3 linked regions of the Homo sapiens genome follow. The protein of the gene in region 1 interacts with the protein of each later gene in a biochemical or structural test. Each region holds a gene or a part of one and is shown on either strand. Other genes may lie near its edges.

Region 1 (7,029 bases):
GTTCTCACTCATAGATGGGAATTGAACAGTGAGAACACATGAACACAGGAAGGGGAACATCACACTCTGGGGACTGTTGTGGGGTGGGGGGAGGGGGGAGGGATAGCATTAGGAGATATACCTAATGCTAAATGACGAGTTGATGGGTGCAGCACACCAGCATGGCACATGTATACATATGTAACTAACCTGCACATTGTGCACATGTACCCTAAAACTTACAGTATAATAATAATAATAATAATAAAAAGAATTAAAAAAAAAACAAAAAAACCTGGGCCCAGAGACACATTCACTACAAAGCTGATGAAGTTTATGTTCTAGAGACTGCTGGCATGCACCGCTTCCTGGGTCCTAGCAAAGTGTTCATAGTTTGCGTAACATTTTAATTTTTTTTAAAATACAAGGGATCTGCCCCCTGCCTGGAGTCACCTTTTACCTTAACATACACACTTCAGAGGCCAGATGGGATTTCTCCACTGCTGTGGCTCACTGCATGTTCCGGGGGGCAGACATAGCATTTAGAGGGAACTGAATGAGGTATTGCAGGTGGCTGAAGCTTACTTTTGTGTAACTCTCCTCTTTGTCCTCCTCCTCCAAGCCCCTGGAGCTATGCTGTCCAGTACAGTTAGCCACGTGTGGCTATGGAACTCTTAAAATATAGCTAGTCCAAACTGAAATTTCAAAGACTTACTATGAAAAAGGGAATGTAAAATATCTCATTAATACTTTTTTCTATTGATTACATGTTGAACTGATAATGTTTTTAACATATTGGGTTAATAGATCAAAATTATTTCACCTATTTCTCCTCACTTTTTTAATGTGGACACTAGAAAATTTTAAATTCTATATGTGGATGGCTTATATTTCTACTGAACTGCTCTGCCCTGGAGCATTGTTATCAAGTTGCTGGGACCCCATCGTAGCTACCTTTAGTGCCGGATATGGGAAAAGCTGACTTTGTGAGATAAACACTGAAAAGCCTTTGAGCTCTGGCTAATTCACAGTATTAATATACATTAGGGAGGTTCTGTCACATTTGTCTGCAGGTTCATGTTGAGCTACTATGCAACAGTAGATGTGAAATGCATACTGAAAAGTGGATGTCAGATGCACTCCACAGAGCCTGGTCAAATGGGAAAGCTTATTTTACAAAGGGCAGAGGGACTCTGAGTAGATGATGTTAGTACTACTTGCATAAGGTCCACGGCAGGTAAGATTTTAACTTCTTCAATTTTTGAGCCCCAAATCCTGTCTGGATCTGACATAAAAGCTCTGATTTTGATTTTTTTTTTTTTAAACGAGGTCTCACTCTGTTGCCCAGGCTGGAGTGTAGTGGTGCAATCATAGCTCACTGCAGCTTCAAACTCCTGGGCTCAAGGGATCCTCCTGCCTCAGCCTCCTGAATAACTGGGACAACAGGCATGTGCTACCATGCCTGGCTAAAGCTGTGATTTTATGATTCACTGAAAAAAAAAAAAAAAAAAAACCAAAAAAAAAAAACAAGTCTTCTATGGTCTTCCTACTCAAAGCATGGTCTGAAAACCAGTAACATCGGAACTACTTGGGAGCCTGTTAGAAATGCAGAACCTCGGGCCCCAGTCCATGCCTACCAAATCAGAATCCGTGCTTTAGTAAAGATCCCCAGATGATAGTTATGAGAAGTACTTTCTATGCGGTCTAGATTTTTACTGTGAAAGTATAATTAACATTGGATGTAAACATCCATGATTCAAAATCCTGTTGTCCAGTAGTGGGTAGCTAAGCAGTCCAGGTATATCCGATGTTGTGATTGACAGCAAACTGGATCTCCTTTATATACCTGCTAGAACATCCTCTGTCCAAGGGTGTGATTGGTGCATACCTTCATTGCACTGCAGACCCTTCCAGCCTGTGGCACAGGAACACCCATAGGGGTCAGGGAGACAGAACACATAAGACTTGCATCCCTCTTGTCCACTGCACCTTTCTTTACAAGTTCTGCCAAACGTGTGCAGTTCACAAGCTTTGGGAGGAAAAGAAAAGATGATTCAGAGTCAAATATGCAACCCCTTGAAATACATAATTCTTTAGATTCATTTCTCCTAGTCTAGTGAATATGGGAAACAGTCAAATCTCAGCTGTGGCATGGTAGGATGAACATACCCTTATGGCCCATTTTACTGATAATGAAACTGCCCCACAGAGCAGACATCAGGGACATCACTCACAATCATGCAGGTTTGTGCAGTGCACAAACCTAGGGGGCAGCATTCACACTGTAAACATCACGGATCTGTATATTTATTATAACTTTCCAGTGGTTGGCATTAAAGAACCTTTAGGAAAAGGCACCTTTTTCTAATTCACACACAGGTACCATCTGACCTAACAGAGGCCATTTAGCGTCCATTCCCATCTGTGTCGAGATCTAAAATTCTAGATCCAGCAACGATGGCTTTTTAAATCCACAGCTTACTTATCAAGTCTCTTTACTTACCCTTCTCACACGTCCTTCCCATAAACCCAGGAGGGCAAATGCATTCTCCAGTATCTTCATGGCAGACACCATTGTTCATACAAGCAGTACAGAGATGGTTGCATTCAGGTCCCCACTTCTGGGCTTCACATCCTTTTGTTAAGGAAAACAAGGCTGTGGTGAGTAGAGCGCATTCGCTCAACACATCTTTATTGAGCACCTACTGTGTGTCAGTCATTCAGTGGACAATGGTGAATAAAGATAAAATACAGGCTCTGCTCTCTAAAAGCTCATCATCTAATATGGGAGACAGACATGTAAACAGGAAATCGCGACAGAAACAAAGACAAGGAGTACCTAACTCTGTCTGGTGGATAGAAGAGGGCATAAAGGAAGGCTTCCCAGAGGATATGGTATGCAAGCTGAATCTGCAGGACCAACTAAGTAGCAAAGAAGATAAGGCTGGAGAGTGTCTTCCAGGCAAAGACAAGGCATGGGAAGACAGCATGGCATGTCCAGGGAGCTGCAGGTATGGTTACAGGCTGGAGCTGTGGTTTTCAAAGTGTGGTCTCTGACCAGTAGCATCCCCATCATCTGGGAATCTGTTAGAAATGCAAACCCCAGATCCCACCCAACCACGACCTACTGAATGAGAAATTCTAGAAGTGGCGTAGTAATCTGTGCACATTGGTGTCAGAAGTGTTGTGTTCAGTGAGAGCAGAGATTAGGAAAAACACTTTGGTTTTCCTATCTCAAACAACTATATATCAACATGTATAGGTATGTCTGACCTTCCTAGAAGATGTACCCCATTTACCCTCTGAGTACACCTAGTACATGGTGTTATATCAGACTCCAGAGAAACTAGCTAAATGAAATAAAGGCAAATTGCTTCCTTGACATTCAGACTCTCCTGAGTAGTGGAATAAAAGGGGATGTCACTTGCTTCTCCCAAGTCCACAGAAACTTCATGTAAAGGTAGCTGTGAGGCAAGCTACTAGAAGCTGAATATTGCAGTTTTGCTATCATCATAAATTATATTTTTTAAGATTCATATTACAAAAAGGCTGCTCTGACATTTAATAGAAGTCAAGCACAGTAGTCATCCAGAAGGAAATAGGTCTTGGGTACGTGGAAAGATTCCCCTCGACTCAAGCCCAAATAGTCCTGCCTATAAAACACCTTGCTATATTTTATGTCCATAGAGGTGGCTAAGCATGGAGCATAAACTAGAGGAACCACACTTCTCATACTTCTATTGTCATTTTTCAATATTTATTTAGCTAATTATACACGTGCCTACTCTGATTGGGAATGACCCAAAGGACACGGATTTATCTTATGATCCTGTATTCTCAACACCAACACAATTCTTGGCACAGAGTTATGACCAACACATTTTGGTAAATGAATGGGGGAACATAACGCAAAGCAAATGAATTGGAGATGGCAATCGTTAGAGGAATGACAGAGAAGCCCAGGCATTTAGACCTGAAGACTTCAATATTTAATATTATGAAAACCTGATCTAGCTGGGGAAAATTCAGGGCAAATCATTTTCTTTCTATTTGTGAAGTTCCTGTAAAAATTACAGGAAAATGTAATGGTGATATTTATGCCCCCACTTCAATAGTTATAATGGAGAAAAAAAGTTTTTACTAGTTCTAACTCTTACATTTTTCAAAACTGAAAATAAAAATCACACATAAGAGTTAAATGACCTGGGAAGTGTGGGATTTACAGGAGGCAATGTTTAAGCAGATGTTAGTCTAACCCAAGAGGTCCAACTCATCCCCCTAGAGCAGACACGTTTCAGTGAGACTGCTTTACTCGTTGTGATCCCCCTTTTTATATGGATGATTATGCTGTACAAATGTGAGCTTCTAGTGCCTGTAACGTGTAGTACGTGACTCCACCCTTGTCTATAGCTCACTGGTCTAGGCTGATAGACATCTAATATATGTTAGGCCAATCTGATTATTTATCCTGGAAATTCAAAATTTGGAAGTGAAAGAAACATTGCTGAAGCTGAGACATGGTAAAAGCAGCATCTTAGAGAGAAAGCCCACTCCCTTACCTCCCCACACCCACCACAACTGAGCCTCAGCTCTTCCTTGAAGCTTATCTTTTCTGGAACTTGCTTTATAGTTTTTGTTTTTGTTTTTGAGACAAGGTCTTGCTCTTTCAACCAGCCTGGCCCACTGCAGCCTCGACCTCCCGAGCTTGAACTATCCTCCCACCTCAACCTGTCAAATAGCTAGAACTACAGGCATGCATCACCATGCCTGGCTAATTTTTGTATTTTTTGTAGAGACGGGGTTTTGCCATGTTGCCCAGGCTGGTCTCAAACTCTTGAGCTCAAAGGGCCTCTCAAAGTGCTGAGATTACAGGCATGAGCCACCGTACCCAGCCACTTTTCAGCTTTCCCATCAGTTTATTAAGAGTCCTTAGTGTCCCCGTCTGGTATGGTTTGGCTGTGTCCCTACCCAAATCTCATCTTGAATTGTAGTTCCCATAATCCCCACGTGTTGTGGGAGGAACCCAGTAGGAGGTAAGAGGTCATTTAATCATGGAGGCAGTTGCCCTCATGCTGTTCACATGATAGTGAGTGAGTTCTCATGAGATTTGATGGTTTAATATGGTGCTTCCCCCTCTCCTTCACTCTCATTCTTCTCTCTCCTGCCGCCATGTGAAGAAGGATGTGTTTGCTTCCTCTTTTGCCATGATTGTAAATTTCCTGATGTCTCCCCAGCCATATTGAACTGTGAGTCAATTAAACCTCTTCCCTTAATAAATTACCCAGTCTCAGGTATGTCTCAATAAAGAGCATGTGAAATTAGAAATGATTTGCCCTGAGAAAAGAAAATGATTTGCCCTGAGTTTTCCCCAGCTGTATCAAGTATTTGTAATATTAAATATTTAAGTCTTCAGGTCTAAATACCTGGGTTTCTCTGTCATTCCTCTAATGATTGCTATCTCTTATTCATTTGCTTTGCAGCATAAGAACAGACTAATACAACCTCCAACCAATGCCTGGTTTTTGCTTAAGAAGCCATGGTTAGTTTCTGTTATTTGCAACTAAAAATCCTAACAACCTAACAACTACACCATCACAAATGGTGGCCTCTCCATCACTTACTCCGGACTATCAGCCTGGTGAAGGCCGAGGTGAAGAGGTTTCCTCCTATATACCTGGCCGAGTACACTCCAGCATCCTGGGGCTGAGCATGAGGCAGGTGTACTTCTAGAATATCAGGTACTTCATGCCGGGGCACTGAATGGATGAAGGAACCTAGTAAGAGGGAAGAGTGAAGAACCGTAGGTCACACTGAAACATACCTGCTTCCTTGTCTGGTTTCTCCACTTAATTAGCTTTCCCTGACATGGTCAAGAAAATGTGCTCTCACATATTGGATGTGGGAGAAGAATGAAAATGCTGAACTATTCAGTACTCTCTCAATAGTCAAGAAAGTCATAGTGATAGAACAGATAGGTTAGTCTGTGGGATCTACCACCAAACACATGAAGATGGGGGTGGTCTAAGTTCTTACATTCTACAGGGAGAGGCGAACATAGTTGGCAGGCAAAGTTAGGTGAAAAATGATAGGTAACCCTGTCAACTAACCAATTAACCAGGAGATATCTATAATCGCTACTCCAATCTGGAAGTCCTATCCACTCACAGACTTCAGAATGATCCCCATCAATATTCCAGCTGGATCAGGCAACTGACACTGGGTGGTACGAAACCATAGCTAGGACCTAGACACATTTGGATTACACAGTTGGACTGCCAGAACTGCTAACAATTGGCTTCCCATGTTTACTGTGGTAATTTCCTAAACCTTGCAATCAACAATGTCACAATCAAAGAAACTCACACTTTATATGGCTGAAGTTGGGATCTCACATTATGATGGGGTTTTATTGTATGTACATACACCATGTACATTCATATATATGAATTCCACTTTAATATCCTTAAGTAACCAAATATGTCACCTAAGAGGGCTTCTATCATACACAGAATTTGAAAGCTTGCATCATAGCAGCTTTAATTCAAACATCTGCCCACAAGACCACAATAGGAAAATGATTCAATATGTTGTATGTTATCTGATATCTCACATCATACTGGGGAAAGCAATGAAACACATACTCACCATTTTTGTAAATCACTGCATCTTCTTCTTTAATCAATACCTTTTTGAAAGATATGTTCACGTTATCTCCCTTGTCCACAGTCATAGTTAAAGTAGCTGGTAGGAAGGAAGCTTTTAAAAGAGAGAAAACAAATACCAAAAATGGGATCACACATTTTCTCCAGGAGCAATTGAGCTTTGAGACTCAGAAAATGAGGGCTGGCACTTGCTAGGTGTCAGATGGTTTTTGGAAGGTGAAAAACAGTGGTGGCTAATGCGTTTTAACCTTTCTTAACATTATGTACCTTTCTAAGAATCTGATGAAAGGGATGGTCACTTCCTTTATAAGAGTGTAAATATATACAAACAATATGCCTATACACAATTTTTCTATTCAGTGGTTGGGGAGATGAGGACTTTGTGTTG
Region 2 (7,029 bases), on another chromosome or scaffold:
GGAGAGGCTTACCTGCTATGAAGAAGCCACCAAGAATAGAAAAATGGTATAATACCTGCAAATATCACTTGTAAGGCAAAAAGGGGTAGAATACAGACACATAAATATAAAAAAGACTTGATGGTAAACTTTAAAAAGTATTTTTCTTAACAATGTGAATAGCTTTATTTTCTCAAATGGAGGAAACCATTAAGGCATAGTGGATCAAGTCACCAAGTTTGAAACTGGTATTGCTACCTTGCCAACAACTGTCTCTTTTATGAGAGGAGGCCCAGTAGCTTTATTTCAATTTTCTCATCCCATAGTGACTCATGTTTTAATAAAAACTGTTTACTGTCATAACCTTGGACACTTACAGGCAGAGAAGACTTCTTGATAAAATAATGCAGTAACTTCAAGCACCCCAAAAATTCACTTAAAATACATTATCCCATAGGAATATTTCCATTGAGTTATTTATGGCAACTAGCAGTCAGAATTTCTTAGTCAGGTGACTATGATTAATTTTCTTTTTGTATATATTTCCCTTACATATAATAGTTTTGCCAATTTTTCTCCCCTGATAATAATTTTTAAAAATTAAAAATTGCCTAAGGGAATGGACTGAAGGAGAAATATATGAAGAATGATGTATTTCATTAAGGGATATAGTAGATTTCTTTGAGCATTTGTGTTATTTGCATCAATTAAGGACAATGTTGCATATTCCAGATTAATTAGCTATTAGGTTTTTTGCAGATATAAACATGCTATGTACAATGATATTTATAATTATTTTATTTTTTATAGACTTCAAAGTGTTTCTTTTATAGACACTGGAACAGTGTGAATCTGGTAAGCATGTTTCAGTTAATTAGCAAAATTTAAATTAGCAAGACATAACAGGGTGAGTATTGGAGTTCTAAAAATATTTTTAAAATAATGAAGTTACATGTATGTATACACATGCAAGTAGATACTGTAAAATGAACTGCTCCAGAGTACTTGCTTTTACTTCAACTTAACATACTCCAAAATATTGCTTTCCTGTATAATATCAAAGGAAATATTAAATGCATGTATATTATTTTAAGAACTTGATGATATATTTTACATTCTTTTAACTTTACTCAGGCTATAAATATATTTATATATCATTCAATCAGTTTTTAGAGTAAATGAAAACCATAGTATGGGGGTGGTAAGTTTTCACCACATACATCCTTACTTGATTATGTTCATTTCTTTTTCTGAAAACTGTATCAAAAATCAGAGTAATGGAGTTTGTTTCTACCACACACTTATTGTCCATGTACTACAGTTCATTATGGCTTACAAAAATGGAATTTTCATTTGAAGATGGGTAAGCAGAAATCAACTAGTAAGTATGATACTGGAATTAGGCTTCTGAAATCCATTAACATTTAACCAACTCAGAGGACAATGCTGTTCTAAATTTTTATCAAAATTGTGCAACAGTATAATTTGTTAGTAGGTTTGCATAGATATAACACCTTTTCACTGGTATAATACATCTTTTCCAAAGGATTATGGCAGGCTTGTTTCTATTCTTCATGTATATTCTCTTTTTCACTCTTTTTTTCTGTTTTACATGAAATTAACCATATTTATCATCTGGCTACCATAGTTCCAAAATAAGGTCCAGTAGTAGTTTGAAGCACAGCAAGCTCAGCAGTTTCTTCCCTTTTTAAAGCCCGACAGTCAGTGGAGTTTTCTATAGTCGAGCCACGTGAGCACTGTCACCCCAAGTAGAGACTCTTGTGAACTCAAACGGCTCCAGATTCACGGTCAAGAACCTTGGTGACTTCACATAACTACCACTTATTGCTGGAAGGGAGACAATATTGTTTGCTTCTGAAGTTTTCAAACAGTTTCTCACCTGGCAGCTTCTCCGGATTTCTTTGTTGCTTTCATAATCGCTTCTGACATTGCGCTTTCAAAAATCTAAAGGTCGAATCATCATAGTTGTGGAACGTAAGGAGTAACTGGGCCCTTTGAAGTAGTGCCACTTTATCCCATTCAGTTTTCCATGGTTTTGTCCCGCAGTATAGAACATTCCATTTAGATTGGAGGGGCCACAAGCATCAAACCACCATCCTGAAAAAATAATTCATAATAGAAGAGAGAAGGAGAGGCAACAATTTTAAGTAAATGGAATATTTGGAAATTAATGGCATTAAATGATGGGAAACTTGCTTGTTCTTGTTATGCTTATTTGCAATTACGAGGCATCAGTAAATATATTCCCAGTAGTGAAACTGTTTTAAATGACTTCTGATTTAAGATTTGTATGACCCATCACAGACAGCAATGCTCTCATGGAAAGCAGCTTTCAGTGTGACTCCACTGGAACTCACTTCTTCTTGTAATGATGGGAAGCCTCTGGGCTTCAAGATACAATCTACATAAGAGATGGATTTACATTTAAGACAAATGCAATAAGGAAAATGCATATACCCATAAGAGGCATTCCATCTTAAGACTGTTATTGGGAATAGAACAATTAATTATTAGTGAAGAAATGCAGAAACTTAGACAAGCAACTGAGATCTAAATAGAAAGATATTCTCCATCTACTGCATATGTTTGTCAATAATTGGCCCTAAGCTGCTTCTAAAATTAATTGGATACTGTGCAATGACTATGATGCTCAAAAGGGCTTTTAATTAACGTACCCTCTCTGTAGTTTATAACAGTAGAAAAAGTGTTCAGCAATAGTAGCCATTCAGTTCCTGTACAGCCATATTTTGTCTATGGTTATTTAAGTGCTTTCCAAACTTAGTAAAAAGAAAAACAACTTGATGAGTAACATGGAAATTCTATGCTTGTATAGCTCTCTATAAGGATAACTGGATAAGTCAGTTTTATTTTTTAAATAAATTAAGTTCTTAGATTTTTAGATAAAGCATAGTGTTTTTTCCTGTCTGCTGAAGTAACACTACTGAATCTTTAGGGAGAGATTTATGCCAGAGACATTCTGGCATATTTTTTATTTGGATACAGTTGACCTCTCTTTGATTACAGACTTATACCTAAGGGACTAATAGCTAAAGAAAGAGAAAGCTGTACAGCTGATGTTTAACTGTAACATGAGCACAATCTTGCAGAAACTTTAGAAGAAGTCAAATGGAGAAAAGCTAGTTCTCATTTTTCAACTTTAGAAGATGAGTACAGCTGGCTTGTGTTTATAAAGTCACACTAGAGGCGTAACAAGCTGCATTAATCACCAGTTCATAGTGGGGAACCACAAGGTATGTCTTGATGAATTTGGAAAGACATTATATTCCGTGCAGTTTTATCAACTGTATGCAAACAACATAAATGTTAATGTAGTCAAAACATGAGGGACAAAAAGGTTCTTGTTTGGAAAAGAAGGAGGAACTGCAAGTAAAATCCTACCTTTGTTTTTCTTAAGATTAATTCTTCTAATTTTTGATCAGTACAGCTGTTAAATATGCTGTTTATATTATAAAAAGCATTCTAATATTAGTGAATTTATTTGCCCAAAAGACTCTTTCTAAAGGACTAAAATAAAACTCTAAGATGAAATTCAACTTGATTGATTCTGTTTTTAACTTTTCTCCTCCTTTTCTGTGACCTTCTTGAAGCACTTTTCCATTGCATTAATGAACTTTTTTATAGTCTTTCAAATATGCACCATGGTCTCTCAAGCAAACACACTTACTCTATTGTTGAGACTGACAATGATTCATAGAATTCTCTTCCAAGTTGCATTGGGGTAAAATGTGTGTTTTTGTTTATTTGGTTTATAGAAAGTCACAGGAGTCCCAGAGGAGTGCGGAAAGACAGACGTCTGTTGCAACAACAGCCTGGCAATAAAGAGCACAGGCTAAAGGATACGCTCATTGGGAAACTTTGGGAAAACTTAGGAAAGAGACAAGAAACAGTAAGAGCCTGTGAGAGAGTCAGGTAAATTGATCTTGTGTAGCTTTTTGAAGGAATAAAGTGGGGTAATGTTTGCAATGAGTAGAATGGCATTTTGGAGACATTGAAGGAAGGCCAGTATGGCTGGGTCACAATCAACGAGGGGGATAGTCACCTGAAGCTAAGTGGGTCTGAAGCAAATCACCCAGTGTTTTGTTCATCATCCTAAAAACAATGGAAAGCCATGGTTTGTATATTGGCCCATCTCCTGTACTTAGTAGGACACCTAACGAAGTTTGCTTCCCAAATGACCGGCGGGTCACTGCAGGCTTGTTAACTGATTGACTCTCTGATTGGTTCTCCTTGTGAAGTCTTTGTTGTCTGAAGTTGTTTAGCTTACTAAAATGCTGTATTTGATAGATACCCCAAAATGTAACACCTGTCCTTATTGTATTCATTTTTTTCTTTATGTATCCATTCAATATATAATTATTGTGAAACGTTGTTACACAATACTCAAGACAGACATAGTCCTTGCCTTCATGAAACTCACTTCTAATGGGAGAAACAGATGAATATATGTAAGCAGGCACATAAAATAACTATTAGGTTGGTGCAAAAGTAACTGCGGTTTTTGCCATGACTGTTATTGACAAAAAACGCAATTACTTTTGCACCAACCTAATATAAATTATGACTTAAAATGTCATGAAGAAAATACGTAGGAGCTCTGAAGGAGAATAACTTGACTTTTCACATTTGTGAAAGAAGCTGATATTTAACGAGACCAGAAGGAGGAGAGAGACAGCCCCAAGAAGATGGGAAAAGACCCTGCTAAGCAGAATACAGCACCTGCAAAGGCGATGAGGAAGAAAACAAGCTTGGGATGTGTAGGGACATCAGTGCAACTGGTGCACAGTAAACAAGAAATGACTTGCAGGAAATGAAGGTGGAGGAATAGGCAGTCCTGGTGAGAAGTTCAATGTTTATGGAACAATTTGTAGTTTAGCCAGCCTGCTTGTCCATGATCAGGCAAACAAGTAAAACATTCTCTACAGATGGGAACCACAATCGAACCAGAAGAACCAGATCTGCTAGGTTAAATGTTTAATCAAACATGGTTTAGAGTCCTCATTCTCTACGATCTTCCAAAGCCATCCTGAGCATATGTGACAGCTTAAAAAAAAAAAGGAGAAAATTGAGTCTAGAATCAATTCTGCAAATATTAACCAATGGATAGGGATAGGGGACAGAAATTTTTGGAAACAAAATTTCTGACTTTAAAGCATGCACAGTTTTGTGTAGGAGACAAACAAAATGCTACACATTGAGATGATAGCCGTTAAACTAAGAGAAGAAGAAAATTTGATGGAAACACAGAGGCAGTAGGTGCTAACTGTCTGAGGGACCACAAAGCTCACTCATTCAACAGCTGCTCTGGGTCCTGAAAGATGGGTATGAGTTCACTGGACAGAAAGAGCTTCTATATAGTCTGTACTCTGGAAGACCAGGGGAGAGTGTCTGCCAGCAGGTTGGCTTGGCTGGAGTGCCAGTGGGTTAAAGGGTTGGAGAATATAGGGCTAAAAAATAAACAGGAGGGAAAACATAAAGGTTTTTATTACACCTTTAGACATTTTCTTTTGGGCAATGGGAAGCCTGGAGAGCGCCGGAGCAGAAGTTAGAAGACCCAGACTTTTCATGCTTACTTCATCAATAAATAACCAAGAGATCCTACACAATAGTACCAATAGTATTTGATATTTATTGAATCGTTCATATGAAGGTATTTATATGCATTTTCTCATTTTATCCCCCAAACAGCCTTAAGTGATGTGGCAAGTACCATAATAAAGATACTAATGCTCACAGAGTTTAAGGAACTGCTTAAGGTCACATTCATAATACATAGATTCTAAGAGCTAACCAACCATTTTCACAGCACAGTTATAAGAATCAAATAAGATAATGCACTATTACAGCCTGTAAAATCCTACTAAAGTGCCAGCTGTAAGTTATCTAGAAAATGGGGCAGAATGTTTAGGCCAGAAAAAAAAGAGACAAGACCTTGTGGAGCATCACAGTAATTTAATAATAAAGACAAGGTCATCAGTGCCAACATATTTTCTTATTTGCTTAGTGGGGTTTATTAGAGAAATATGAAAATAATTAGACCCAAATAAGTACAACTGTACAATGTTCATGTTATAAAAACTTGGCATTTAAGTTCCTAATTTTTTTAAATGTTTCATTTTGATTTCATGACAAATCAAGGAGTTTGAAATGTTCAATTAACTCTTTATCTTAAGACTAGTGGGCCATGAATTCTGTGATCTATCTCAGAGCAACTGATAATAAAGATGATGAATTAAGATGGAAGAAAATGAAATAAAAGAGCAATTATTTCTCATGACAATTTCAGTTTTATTATAAAATATCCTAACTTCAAGGTAGAAGAAGTAATTACTTCTGTGTAGGCAAGGATTCTCTGTTTTCTTTGATATATACATTAAAACAAACTAAATAATTTGTTCGTATCAAATATTTCAAACAGTTTGTCCACTTTCTACCTTTATTTTTAAAAATTAAGCATGGCCAAGTCTTTTAAACACAAATCCTGAAAATATGTGGTTTAAAGCATTTTTTCAATGCAGGCAAAAGTATAGCAGACTCCTCATTACTCATATGCATTCCTTGTATTTACAGGTGATCATAGATACTCAGTACATATGGTAAATCTGCATGGGATGAAGATGTTCTATGAATATACAGAAGAGTATGCCTGAGTTTACAGTTCCTCTCTGATAAGATTCTGAATAGCTGAATTATATATTCTGTGCAATCCTGGGAAAACACTGACTTTGTATTTTGTTTATGCTTGGGAATAACAAATAAGAAATATCCTAGAGCAATTCATTTAGGGAAGGCACTTCAAGCCTGAAAGAACTCAATGATGCAAGCAAAGGATTGAAAAAAAAGTTACCCTCTGCTATTGGGACAACTGATAAAATGTCTCAAATGTTTTTTTGTTTTGTTTTGTTCTGTTTTTTTTTTTGTTTTGTTTTGTTTTTTTTGAGATGGAGTCTCACTCTGTCACCCAGGCTGGAGTGCAGTGGCACAATCTTGGCTCACCGCAACCTCCGCCTC
Region 3 (7,029 bases), on another chromosome or scaffold:
GTTGGCTTTAAGCCCAAGTAGCCTGAAGGGATGGAGAACCATTGAGCAAGTTGATTTGGGAGCCCTCCACAGTGTTTCAAAACTCTCTGGCAGGGTTTTAAATGGCCTAACCCGCAAGTATTCTACTGGCAGGGAAAACATCTACAACTTTGCTGTGTATCTTATTTGCTCTCTTCAGGTAGAATCAACCAGGGTGTGTATCTTTTAGCCAACCTTGGGTACAGTCATTTCTAAATCTGACTTCACAGTGTAATCATTTGAAGAACGATCATTTGAAACTCTGAAAAATACAGATACTCAGGCTCCACCTCTAGATATTCTAATTTAATATATCTGGGCCGGGTGCAGTGGCTCACGCCTGTAATCCCAGCACTTTGAGAGGCCGAGGCGAGCGGATCACAAGGTCAGGAGATTGAGACCATCCTGGCTAACACGGTGACACCCTGTCTCTACTAAAAAATAGAAAAAATTAGCCAGCCGTGGTGGCGGGCGCCTGTAGTCCCAGCTACTTGGGAGGCTGAGGCAGGAGAATGGCGTGAACCCGGGAGACGGAGCTTGCAGTGAGCTGAGATCATGCCACTGCACTCCAGCCTGGGTGACAGAGCAAGACATCGTCTCAAAAAAAAAAAAAAAAAAAAAATATATATATATATATATATATATATATATATATCTGAGGTGGGCCCAGGCATCTGTATTTGTAAACATTCCTCTGATTCTTTTGACACCTCGCCAAATTTGATAGTGCTTTTGGGTTTATAAAGAGGCTATGGGGTTTTAAAAAGGCTGCAAATTTCAATTTTTATTTTTATTTTTTTGTGATGGAGTCTCACTCTGTCGCCCAGGCTGGAGTTCAGTGGCTTGATCTTGGCACACTGTAACTTCTGCCTCCCGGGTTAAAGCGATTCTCGTGCCTCAGCCACCAAAGTAGCTGGGACTACAGGTGCATGCCACCATGCCCAGCTAATCTTTTGTATTTTTAGTAGAGACAGGGTTTCACCATGTTGGCCAGGCTGGTCTCAAACTCCTGACCTCAGTTGATCCGCCTGCCTTGGCCTCCCAATCAATGTTTCAATAGGAGGATTAGAAGTTGAGAGCCAGTATGTGAGGAGAGGATATTAAAGAGGAATTGAAATATTTTCTACAATTTAATTACAATTTTTTATGAGACCAAAACAGAAGTAAATTGCCTAAAAATATATATTCCTATTTTGCCTTGTTTATTTGCCCAGAAACAATTTTAAGGTTTATAAATGACGTGTTGTTTGGACTAAAGATATAAAGATAGAAGATTTTAACAGACAGTAGAATTTGGTAAAGGAATCCATCAAAAGTTTGTGAAGGAATCTGCATAAAGAAAGTCAAGGAGATAGCTACAAACTCTATGTAGGCAGCATTTATATCCTGGCTAAAACAATTAGCCGGGAATTGTGGCACATCCCTGTGGTCCCAGTTACTCAGGAGTTGCTTGAGCCCAGGAGGTTGAGGATACAGTGAGCCAAGATTGTGCCATTGCACTCCAGCCGGGGCAACAGAGCAAGATTTTGTCTCAAAAGAAATAAATAAATAAAGAAAAGAAACACAAAATAGTTTGCCCAAAATATTTTTGGGGCGTTCATTTTATTTTTATTTTATTTTATTTTATTTTATTTTATTTTATTTTATTTTATTTTATTTTATTTTATTTATTTTATTTTTTGAGACGGAGTCTCGCTGTGTCACCAGGCTGGAGTGCAGTGGCGCAATCTTGGCTCACTGCAATCTTGGCCTCCTGGGTTCAAGCCATTCTCCTGCCTCAGCTTCCCCAGTAGCTGGGATTAAACACGCGCTACCACACCCAGCTAATTTTTGTATTTTTCATAGAGATGGGGTTTCACCGTGTTGGCCAGGATGATCTTGCTCTCCTAACCTCATGATCCACCAATCTTGAGCTCCCAAAGTGCTGGGATTACAGGAGTGAGTCACTGCGCCCAGCCTTTTTGGGGCATTTATTAACTGCTTTTAGACAAACAATTTTGCTCCCTACATATAAGCTCAAATCTCGTGGACTACTGAGGAAGATAAACCTATGGGCCTAATATTTTCCGTCCCTTCTTCCTCCTTGGTGTCCAGTGGGACTAGAACGCTTTCCAGTTGAAAGAGATCATGAAAGCATTAGGCCATTATGCTGAAACCACACCTGATCTGATTACTTCATGCATGCCTTTTCCTGACTGCTAAAGAAAAAGAATTTTGTGTCGGTCTTTACTTTAGAATCACCACATTCAAGTTTTAGAGAAGACAGTTACAAAAGTTGCAAATATTTGTTTTCTAATCTTGGCACAATCCTCTTGCACTACAACAGGTTGCCTCTGAGCATCTATGTGTTAGGCATAATTTCTAGGGGCTGAGAGTGTCTTTTTTAGAAAGTTGTTTTAAAACAAGTATAGTTTGCAAATCTTTTTCTCTAGGGCCTCAGATTATGGTAAAGAAGATACTAAATATGCAAGGTCTCCAGGGTGTGGAAGAAGAGTGTGTGTATCTTGGAATAAACCATCTTTGTATAAAGACAGCAGCCCTCAACTTTCCCCACAGCCAGGGGGATTATGGAAGGTCCAACCCCGCAGGTGAGCGCACATAGCCCTGTCCTCTTAGAGACCAGCTGTTTCTGGTCATTCCATCACAAAGAGTTATGTTTAAAAGTAGGGCAAACTAAAAAGCAGTTTCATTTGGAATATGAAAGTGTCTGTTATTTTATGGACTTGAGTGGGCAGGATACATAAACAGGTGGTTTTTCAAATTACTGGACTTTCCAGATGCAGCTCACTATTGCAGCTGTTCCTACTTTGAACCCCTTAAAAGTGTAGCCAACCCTGCCGTTAACTGAAAGAATATCCCACATCATGAAGCTTTTCATAATTCAAGGGTACTTGGTGCACCTTGCCTTAAATTTTAATAAATAATATGAAATCATGTTCAGTTAAAACCGAAGTTTTTTGATTGCAGTTAATAGATGGAGGAGGGAAAAGACTCTTTTAGTAAGCATTTAAAATGTATGTAATTTTGGGTTGAACCTGAAAGCATTTCATATGCTTAAGAATGAATAATAGCTGCCATTTTGGTATCATCCTTTGCTCAGTATTCTGAGAACAATTTCCCACTAAAGATGATCATAATGCAATTTTACAAGCTGGGGATTCTGAATTCCACGCATGACTTCATACATGGTAGAATATCAATCACCAACTTGTGAAGCTATCTCCTAAACAAATACACAAGCAAAACTAATACTAATGCCAACAGAAAAAGATATTAACATGGTGCCGAGACAATCTGATCTTTTAAACCTAATGCTAGACAACGAGTTAGTGGGTGCAGCGCACCAGCATGGCACATGTATACATATGTAACTAACCTGCACATTGTGCACATGTACCCTAAAACTTAAAGTATAATAATAATAATAAAAATAAATCTTATGCTTTGATTAGATGTATATCAAATAAATAATAATTTTATAAATGACTGTTATACTGATATTAATCACCAATTGCTCTAGAATGCTTTCAAGTTGAAAGGGATCACGGAGGCATTAAACCTTTGTACTATAACCAAAACTGATCTGATTATCACCTGCGTGCATTTTCTTGACTGTTAAAGAAAAATTTGTGTCTGTGCATATTTAAGAATCATTACATTCCAATTTTAGAAAAGCAAGTTATGAATGCATATTTCTGTTTTTCAACAAAGACCTCCTTTCAGATATCCTGATTTGTCTCAGTGCTAACAGAATCATCTAAACACATTTTTCCTCTCATGACAATAGTCCATGGTGAATCACATAATCTTATCTATTCTTCTTTAATGATACATTTCAAAATATTCACTTTGGGCAGTAACTATGTAAAAAGATGGATAACATTTTAAACTTGTTAGCCCTTAATTTCTATTAATATTACAAAAGAGGAATTGGAGGCCAGCCTGGTAACCATGATGATCCCTTCAAATTCTAAAATTCTGTCATTTTGTGCATGTATGTTTCGATCCACAATGCCACTTCGCATTGTCTTCATTTCACATCTGGACCATGATGCAATTACATCTGAACTCTTTTCTGCTCAACTAGACTGGCTACTTTTCATTACCTTCTGTACCTTCACCAGAGTCATTTTACAAAAACGTCACCTTCATTATACCACACCGATGCTTGCAGTCATTTATGGCTGTCCACTGTTGACATGATGTCCAAACTTATCATGAGTGCTGGATTTACAGACTCCGCATTTTACTATGATCAGTCTTTTCACCTTTATCACCTACCACTCTGCCACATGAAATCTCAAATCCCAGTCTGATTGAGCTACTACAACTCCCTTGTGGGAGACATTCTTGTCTCCATGCCTGGCTCGTTTAGAATGCCTTCCTGTGCTTTTGCCCCAGCTATTTGCAATCCATCTGTCCTCCATGACCCAATTCAAACTGCACCTCCTTCATACCATTCTCCATTAAACCAGCTGCAATACATCCTCCTTCTCTGACCCTGCTATCCTTTTCATGGCTGGGTCTCCCTAACACTTCATATTGATACCATTCCCTATTTAAAAACCTTTTTGTTATGCAATATTCAACACTACTGTATTTACTTTTGATTCCTTATCATATATATTATATTTGGTCTGTTTCCAAAATGATGAGAAGGCTTACAGTAGAGATCACATAAGACAGTATGTCAGTTAAAAGGGGGAAGTGAAAATACAGAACCATATGTGGGAACATGAATTAATGAAACTTAAAATCCAGCTATAGATTTGAAACTGCTTCCTGGCAGTCAAGGCAAAAAAAAAAAAAGGAAAAAGGACCAATCAGTTTCCATGTAGCAGTGACTTACTGTTTTGGTTGTATGTATGTATTTTTTAAAAACACTTTTTACCTGTGTGCATGTCGTCTCACTAACTGTAATCTTTGTGATTGCTAGGATTTATTGTAGGAATTACATAGCAAAGCATCTAATCTAGCATATTGCATGGGTTTAATAAATAAATTAATTGATGGCTAATTTTATCAGAATTATAGATTTGAAGCCATTTTATTTATCTAGAAAATCAAAATAAGTACATAATAAACATGTGAATAACAATGTGAACAAAAGATGACACAGAAATCTCAGAGGGAGAATGAAGGGTTTGAGTTTGTGACCACTTTAATTAAAGGAAATTTTAAAAAGTATTCACAAGCTACTTAATATTTTTGGGTAAATGTCTATATTTGGGTAAATTGTCTCATAATGTGGAGCAGCAAGCTTTTAGTAAGATGAGAAATTAATTTTATTGGAACTGGATTGTATACTATAATGTGTGTCATTATTACTAGTAAAATAGGTAATAATGCTGCACCTTCTTGAATATAAACTCATGCCACACATGAGTTTTCTTTCCTCTCCAGAAATGAAACTGGGGTTTCATTTCTTCTCTAGAGTTTTGTTGTTGTTTTCTTTAACTTGGCAAGGGGATGCTTTTACAATGCAGAGAACACCCTAATCTGGCACTGTCCAATAGAGATTTCTGTGCTGATGGAAATGTTCTATGTCTGTGCCACTAGCTTTACCTGTTGCACACTCACAACGTGGCTAGTGTGACTAAGGAACTGAATTTTAAATTTTACTTGATATTAATTACTTGAAATTTAAATGGAAACACAAATGGCTAGTGATTACCATATTGGACAGAGCAGCTTTTACAGGGCTGCTTGCTTTTAGGACCAACTTTTCCTTACTTGATTGGGTACCTTTAACAGTAGATTCCATTGGCCACTGGTTCTTTCTTATTATGTGAAGTTTTAAGCTACCATGCATTAGCAGTAAAGCTTTGGGTGCTTTTAAGAAGCACCCAAAATTATTGTCATGATTTTTTTAAGAAGTCTGTGTTGTTGGCCAGGTGTAGTGGCTCACATCTGTAATCCCAACACTTTGGGAGGCCAAGACCAGTGGATCACTTGAGGTCAGGAGTTCAAGACCAGCCTGGCCAACATGGTGAAACCCCGTCTCCACTAAAAATACAAATATTAACCCGGCATGGTGGCGTGCACTTGTAGTCCCAGCTACTCAGGAGGCTGAGACAGAAGAATTGCTTGAACCTGGGAGGTGGAGGTTGCAGTGATCCCAGATCATGCCACTGCACTCCAGCCTGGGTGACAGAGTGAGACTCCGTCTCAAAAAATAAATAAATAAATAAATAAAAATAAAAATAAAAAAAGTCTATGTTGTTGAAAGTAAAATTTAGGGAAATTTATTATTTACTGTCATGGAAACTGGGAGAGAATCATCCCTGTTTCTGTTATTTTGTTTGTGCTTGGACTTGAGGATACATATTTATAAAATAGGAGTCTCCATAAGATGTAGATAGGACCCTGTTCATCGGCCAGGCACTCTTTGGGCAGAATTTGCATTTGTAGTCTTGGTGTCTCTCTGTAGGGCATTCTCTGAAGTCCCCTCTAGGCCAGGCATCTGAGTGAGACTGCCAAATTCTTTTCTAGGTGGATTTTTTGGTTTGACTGTCTTGTTTTGCTCACAGTTCTATGAGCAAGTAGTCAGGGTTTGGTTTCTTTAGGCTAGCAGGAGCTTGCTCTAGCTTTTTCTTTTAATTTCTTTAATTTGAGGATCCCCACACTTGCTCTTTGAAATGCTGTTTTGTAAACTGCTATTTCCTCCAAGCCTGTTATGTTTTTTTTCCATCTGTGTTGAAGTCTCTTTTCCCAGTGGGGCCTTTCTTTCTCAACTTAGTCATGCTATGTGTGGAGACCCACATCCACACTGTTGGCCTCTCTGACTCATCCCGGGAGATTCGCTTGCTCCAGGGAATCTCACTCACAGTGCAGTGGAACAACAGGGAGGATCCAGTGAAGCCAGCCCTCTCTGAAATCTGCCTCTTTTCCTGGCAACTCTCCTTCTTGTTCAAAGCCACATGAGAAGGGTGGGGGTGGGGGAAAACACAAATATCCTCTCCCTTTAAGGTAATGTTTTTAGTAAATAGTTTTTTAGCAATTCTATTTTCT

What was found. Proteins that work in one complex are often made in the same cells at the same time.
Region 2: the proteins of TEK (region 1) and ANGPT1 form a complex in vitro, tested with the Homo sapiens proteins (6 studies listed by BioGRID and IntAct, with this or other methods).
Region 3: of the proteins of TEK (region 1) and CAV1, one has a biochemical effect on the other in vitro, tested with the Homo sapiens proteins (one study listed by BioGRID).

The regions. Positions count from the first base shown.
Region 1 is NC_000009.12:27,168,201-27,175,229, reverse strand, and holds part of TEK (angiopoietin-1 receptor isoform 1 precursor), read right to left. Parts: intron 6,736-7,029; coding exon 6,625-6,735; intron 5,754-6,624; coding exon 5,601-5,753; intron 2,615-5,600; coding exon 2,483-2,614; intron 2,009-2,482; coding exon 1,868-2,008; intron 1-1,867. UniProt on the Homo sapiens protein: Tyrosine-protein kinase that acts as a cell-surface receptor for ANGPT1, ANGPT2 and ANGPT4 and regulates angiogenesis, endothelial cell survival, proliferation, migration, adhesion and cell spreading, reorganization of the actin cytoskeleton, but also maintenance of vascular quiescence.
Region 2 is NC_000008.11:107,249,919-107,256,947, forward strand, and holds part of ANGPT1 (angiopoietin-1 isoform 1 precursor), read right to left. Parts: intron 6,735-7,029; exon of another isoform or gene 6,589-6,734; intron 3,931-6,588; exon of another isoform or gene 3,774-3,930; intron 3,252-3,773; exon of another isoform or gene 3,122-3,251; intron 2,098-3,121; coding exon 1,937-2,097; 3' UTR 1-1,936. UniProt on the Homo sapiens protein: Binds and activates TEK/TIE2 receptor by inducing its dimerization and tyrosine phosphorylation.
Region 3 is NC_000007.14:116,528,007-116,535,035, reverse strand, and holds part of CAV1 (caveolin-1), read right to left. Parts: intron 1-7,029. UniProt on the Homo sapiens protein: May act as a scaffolding protein within caveolar membranes. Forms a stable heterooligomeric complex with CAV2 that targets to lipid rafts and drives caveolae formation. Mediates the recruitment of CAVIN proteins (CAVIN1/2/3/4) to the caveolae.